2 separate regions of the Homo sapiens genome follow, and region 1 is linked to region 2. Evidence: fine-mapped expression QTL. A gene starts in region 2. The other region holds a variant in brackets. All regions are shown on one strand. Distances are between the middles of the regions.

Region 1 (2,904 bases), 830 kb before region 2:
AAGGTGCCAGCTCTGGAACGAAGGATGCCCTTGGGAGGTGATGACACTCAGGTACACGGGTGCTCAACAGATTGCTTCCTCCTATCCTCAGATGGTCTTTGCATGCATGCAGCCATTGGCACTCCCATTGTACGCAAGGAAACCAGCCCAGGGTCACACAGCTGGTCAGCAGCAACACAGCTGGTCTCAAATCTAAGGTGCCTGGCCATGCCTCCATGAGGGACCGCCTGCAAGGGAGGTTGATCTTGGCTTTGGGGAGCCTTTCCTGGGCTGCACGAGTAACCTCCAATGTTCGAGGCCCCAAACTCTGCTCACATCTTCCTTTCCCTGTCTCTGCTTGGGCTATGATCACGGTGACTCTAGCAACCCTTCATGGACATTATAGTACTCTCTGCCATTCACTTTTGGTCTAATCTGACTTCAACCCCCACTTACTTGGTCTCTCCTTTTACAACCAACACAACCGAAATCCGAGGGCTTCTTTTTTTTTGAGACAGAGTCTCACTCCATTCTGTCACCCAGGCTGGAGTGCAATGGCACGATCTCGGCTCACTGCAACCTCCACCTCCCGGGTTCAAGGGATTGTCCTGCCTCAGCCTCCTGAGTAGCTGGGATTACAGGCGGGTGCCACCGTGCCTGGCTAATTTTTGTATTTTTAGTAGAGACGGGGTTTCACCATGTTGGTCAGGCTGGTCTCGAACTCCTAACCTCGTGATCCGCCGGCCTCAGCCTCCCAAAGTGCTGGGATTACAGGCGTGAGCCACCATGCCCAGCCAAATCTAGGGCTGGAACATGGCTGCAGCATATAAATAGAATTGAATTCCATAGTTTTGTTAACCCTGTTTTTTGTTTGTTTGTAGTTGTTGCTGTTTTTGAGACAGAGTCTCGCTCTGTCGCCTAGGCTGGAGTGCAGTGGTGCAATCTCGGCTCACTGCAGACTCTGCCTCCCGGGTTCAAACTATTCTCCTGCCTCAGCCTCCCAAGTAGGTGGGACTAAGGCGCCCACCACCACACCCGGCTAATTTTTGTATTTTATTAGAGACAGGGTTTCACCATATTGGCCAGGCTGGTCTGGAACTCCTGACCTTGTGATCCGCCCACCTCGGCCTCCCAAAGTGCTGGGATTACAGGCGTGAGCCACCACACCCAGCCCCTGTTTTGTTTTTGTTTTGCTTGTTTCTTAGGGTTGTTTTTCTATTTATGGTAAAGGCATTGGCTTTCCATTTGTAGCATCAATAGAATATTTCCTGTTTACAATAACCTTATGTCATAGTAAATGGTAAAGGGATTTAAAGCAGTGGTTTTCAGCTGCCAGAGGCCTGAGTGAGTTTGGGCACACTCTGTGTGATC[A/C]GGCAGAAGGCCTGTGGGAAGTTTAGCTGAGGACAGGGTCAGGAAAGGTGATGGACAGTGGGGGTCTGTCCTGGTCACCAGACCCCTGGGTCCTGCCCACCTGCTTGGAGCTCCCCACCCATCACACATGATGCTGCCAAGCCCTCTGGGTATTGTGGGCAAATACCTTAGGAGAGAAGCTGATGAACTTTGTTTCTTGAAATGCACAGATTCCTTGGACATCCCTGAGAGGTCAGTCATGAAGGTCAACTTGGTTTTCTCCCCCTCATTTGGGTTCAGAATTTAAAGTCCACACACACAGGCAGTAAGATGATATAGATAAGGACATCATCACTCGGTTTCGGATGTTAAAATGTCTAGGTGGGTTAGGGGTGATTTGAGATCACACAACCTTGTGCCACAAAGAGGAATTCCCAGGTCAGAGGGAGACATTTTATTGCCATGTTATGATCTTATCATTGAGTTGAAAGGCAATCTTGTTTCATTTTGGATTCTTTCTTATGTTTATGTCTTATAAGGGCACTTTGAATTTCCAAGCAAATAATAATTTTGAATTGGCTTTTAATCATTGACTTCTAGCACAGTTATATGATCAGAAACGTGCTGTGTGATTTGATTGCTCTCAAATATATTGAGATTTGCTGGAACAAAATAAGTCAGGTTAATTTTTGTAAATGTACCATGCATGCTTAAAATGAATGTATCTACATTTGTTCCTGAGATACAGGTTGATGGACGGATGGCTACATGGATGTGATGGAGATGGTTTACTATCAGGACCTTCCGCATCCTGCTGATGTTTTGTTGCTTAGGATATGAATGGCTGAGCGGAGGCTGTAAAACCTGGCACTCTGCTTGGGTATGAGGTTCTTCCTGCCATCCTGCCATCATTTGTTTTTTATGTTTTGTCGCCAAAAGTGACCTTGAGGAACCCTGGGAGCTCAGGAAGGAAGGAGCGCCCAGAAGCAGGGACAGGGAGCTGGTTGGGGAGGACCAGAAATCAGGTTTGTGAAGGTTCCAGAGAGGACCTGTCCTTGCGAGGAGTGTGGGAGACTGAGATGGGGGAGGGGTCATTGGAATGATGCGGGCGCTACTTGGCATTGTCCATTGTGAGGCACCACCGGGGTCATCAGGGATTGGTGGAGAGGGAGTATAAAGCCCCAGGTTTGCTAAGGGAGGGCCCAGACCGAAGAAGGTTTGGCGGATAGCAGAACCTTTTTGTCTCCCTCTGATTGCTCCTAAGCCTCACGCTCCCTTGCCCCGCGTGTCCTGTTGCTTCCCTGATCTTCTCCGTGACCTGTAGCTAAACCTTCCACCAGCGCTTGAGAACTTAATTTGAACCGGATCCTTTCCCAGACCCCTTTCTTCTTCTCCTCCTCCTCCTCCACCTCCTCCAGGTGCCCAACAGCCCCCTTCTCCTTTCCCTTCCCCTCCCCCTCCCCTTCCCCTCCCCCTCCCCTTCCCCTCCCCTTCCCCTCCCCCTCCCCTTCCCCTCCCCCTCCCCTGCCCCTCCCCAACTCAGATCCGCCCCGGTCCCCGTCCCCTTCCCTCCCC
Region 2 (2,904 bases):
GTGAGTTCTCAAGAGCTAGCTTAAATTCCTTTTGCTACAAAATCAGTCCATTCTTGCTGGGCGCGGCACTTTGGGAGCAAGGCAGGAGGATCGCTTGAGGCTAGGAGCTGGGGACCAATCTGGGCGACACTGCAAGACCCAGTCTCTACAAAAATTTAAAAATTAGCCGGGTGTGGTGGCACGCTCCTGTAGTCCCAGCTAGTCAGGAGGCTGAGGTGGGAGGATTACTTGAGCCCAGAAGATGGGGGCTGCAGTGAGCCATGATCGCGCCACTGCACTCCAGCCTAAGTGACAGAGCGAGACCCTGTCTCAAAAACAAAAAAACAAAACACAAAACAAAAAGCCCCAGGCCATCCTGTTCTGCTTTTTCCAGAGATGGGAATGACAGCCCTCTGACTCTGAGGTCCCGAGGAGGCAGGGGAAGGGAGGAGGGGATTGTTGAACCCCAAGGCTGGCTGAGAGGGGTGTCTGTCACCTTGATTAAGAGCGCGAGCAGCGTGTCCATCGAAAGCGTCCAGCAGGCCGCTGAGCAGGTAGAAGGAGGAGGCCGTGAGGGGGCAGCAGGGCATGAAGTAGAAAGAAATGATGGCGAAGACAATCCGGGCATAACCTTGGAACGGGACGCGGGGAGACAGGGCAGGATCAGGGAGCCCGCCAAGGCCCCTCGCCCTCTCGTTCGGCCCGGGGCCGTGGGCAGCACTCACCGATGAGGTTGGGCACGAACAGGAAGATATTTTCGTCTGGCATCGCGGCGCCTCCCTTGCTGCCCCGGGCCTGCTCTGGAGATGCCAGTGCTGTCCCAGCCCCGCAGCGCGGCCTCAGCCTCCGGCCCGGCGCATCGGCCGCACCACCTGCGCCCTGGACCCCGCCGCCCCAACCTGGCCCCAGATGCTGAAGCCCGCAGCCGTCGGGAGCATGGACCGGCCCCGAGGTGCGCGGGACGCAGGGGGCGCGCGCAGTCCGCCCTTCCTACCCGCAACCTCCCTCGCCTCTGCCAGCCCCGCAGGCGCTCCGGGCCTCCAGCTGCGGTCGCCGCTGCTCCAGCTGCGCGTGGCTTCCGGGAACCTCCTCCTCCGCGCCCGTCGTTGCAAAATTGGAGAGAGGAAAAAGTGGCTTAAAAAAATAGTTGCGGCCCCTTTAAGGCCTGTCGGCTTCCTTTCCCTTTTCCTCCCTCCGCCCCTCTCCCTTGGCTCGTACCAAAGCGCAGAGGAGGAGAGGGAGGAAGGAACCATTAACGTCAAGCAAAGTTAGAAACGGAAAAGGAAAGGGTAAAAGAGAAGACCGAATAAAAATCTCTGCTTTCCTTTTGTGGAGGGTATGACTTCCTGGAGGCAAAGATAAGGCGATAAAATTCCTCCTCCTGAGTCTTTGCGTCCCCAAGAGGCCAGGAGATTTGGTGCAGTCCTCACTTTACTCCCCGCCCCCTAAGTCTCCAGCCGCCTTTGCTCTCGCAGGCTCTAGGCGGCTAGAGAGGCTCCAGAGCGCCCTGCAGATGGGTTGCTTTTCGCGTGCCCCTTGTGATGGGAGGATTAGGTCGCAGGCTCCACCCTACGTCATCCTCCCAAGCTTCTCAAGCGTCTGGCGCTTGGGGTCACTGCCCTCAAGGAGGCACCTGGAGGGGTACGGAGGGGAGGCTGGAGGAGCAAACGGGGCGCGCTAGGAAATTCCTCTGTCTTTAGTTCTAGAACCCCTGATCTCCTAGCAACGAGGCTGCGGAACCTCTGCAGACTCCAAGGGTTTTATAGCGTCCGGTAGCGACACGGAGCCGGCTCCCCCTTTTCCAGCCTTCCTCCCCATCTCCCATTCTCCATCCCCCACGACCTATACCAGAGGTCCTTAGGCCTCCACGTCTCTCCTTTTGCCGAGTAGCCCAAGGTTTCCACCCATCTGCCAGGTCTGGGGCGTCAAGTCGGCTGCCTCGGCTTGGGAAGGTGCTTGGGAGGGAAGAAGGAAGGAGAGGCCCACCAGGCGAAGGGGTGAGGGGTAGGGGGTTGCGGGAGTTCCCTCTCACTCCCGAAGATATAAAGCAACCTTTATTATTATTATTATTTTTTCTTGTGAGAGGGAATGAGGCAGCGGGATGTTTCCTCTAAAGGCCTTGTTTAAACCTGGGCCCGGGGAATGGTGGTGGACTGGGTTCTGGGGGAAAGCGGGCTGGTTTCTCAGGTCAACTCAGGCTTCGACTGTTCCCAGGGGGATGGCGTCCACTCCGATGGGGAATGAGGGGGAGAAGAAGAGCAGCTGGCCATCTCAAGCTGCACCCTCCTTGAGAGGAGGTCCGGTGAGCACTGCAGGGAACCCTAGAGGTGGGAATGTAATGAAGTGAAAGCCTCCCAGGCAGAGGCACCCCGTGCCAGGTCTGAGCCACGGGCCCTGAGACTCTAGCCTCAACCCTGAGTCCTGAAGCCCCGACTCATAGCTCTCAGCACTAGGCCCTGACTCTAAACCCCCACCAAACCCCCCTCCCCCAGGTCCAGAGCTTTCTAGCTAAATCTCAAGGCCCAGTCCTTCAGGAGCAAGCTCCTTGGACCCACAGGCCCCAGCCTGGGAACTCCCACAGCCAGCACTCCCATGTGGGAGCTCCCAGGCTGAACCCCTCCGGCTTTTCCTTTCCCAGGCTTCGTTATCTCGTTCTGAGGAATACCTGTCCCAGATCAGTGCAGAACTCATGGAGGAGGCTTTGTGCACTGCTTGCTGCCACTTGAACCCTGTGCCCATCAAAAAAAAGCAGTCACAAGACCAAGCGACTCAGATATCCAAACGCGGTAACCCCCTGCCTCAGGACCACCGTGTCTAGAGAACCGCTGCCCCCACTATGCCTGGTTACAGTCCCTGACCCCTCCCACCCCTAGCTGAACTCTCCAGGAGTCTGTGCCCATCTCATCCATCTCACAGCCAGCCCTA

Evidence for each region. PIP is the estimated chance that this variant, and not a neighbour inherited with it, causes the effect. A credible set is the group of variants that fine-mapping cannot tell apart.
Region 1: its variant is the best candidate, but not a certain one, in a credible set for the expression of CDIPT in cerebral cortex (GTEx, PIP 0.83).

The regions. Positions count from the first base shown.
Region 1 is chr16:29,035,688-29,038,591 of GRCh38, forward strand. It overlaps the pseudogene NPIPB10P. Among named protein-coding and RNA genes, the nearest start is that of LAT, 52 kb to the left of the region's middle. The variant A/C (reference allele first, on the strand shown) is at 1,351.
Region 2 is chr16:29,862,111-29,865,014 of GRCh38, forward strand. CDIPT (CDP-diacylglycerol--inositol 3-phosphatidyltransferase) reads right to left here and starts at 1,116. Exons shown (of 6, transcript NM_006319.5): 1 at 705-1,116; 2 at 476-610. The coding sequence starts at 747. It also overlaps the pseudogene CDIPTOSP. RefSeq lists silencers at 809-1,118, 1,129-1,188 and an enhancer at 1,237-1,774.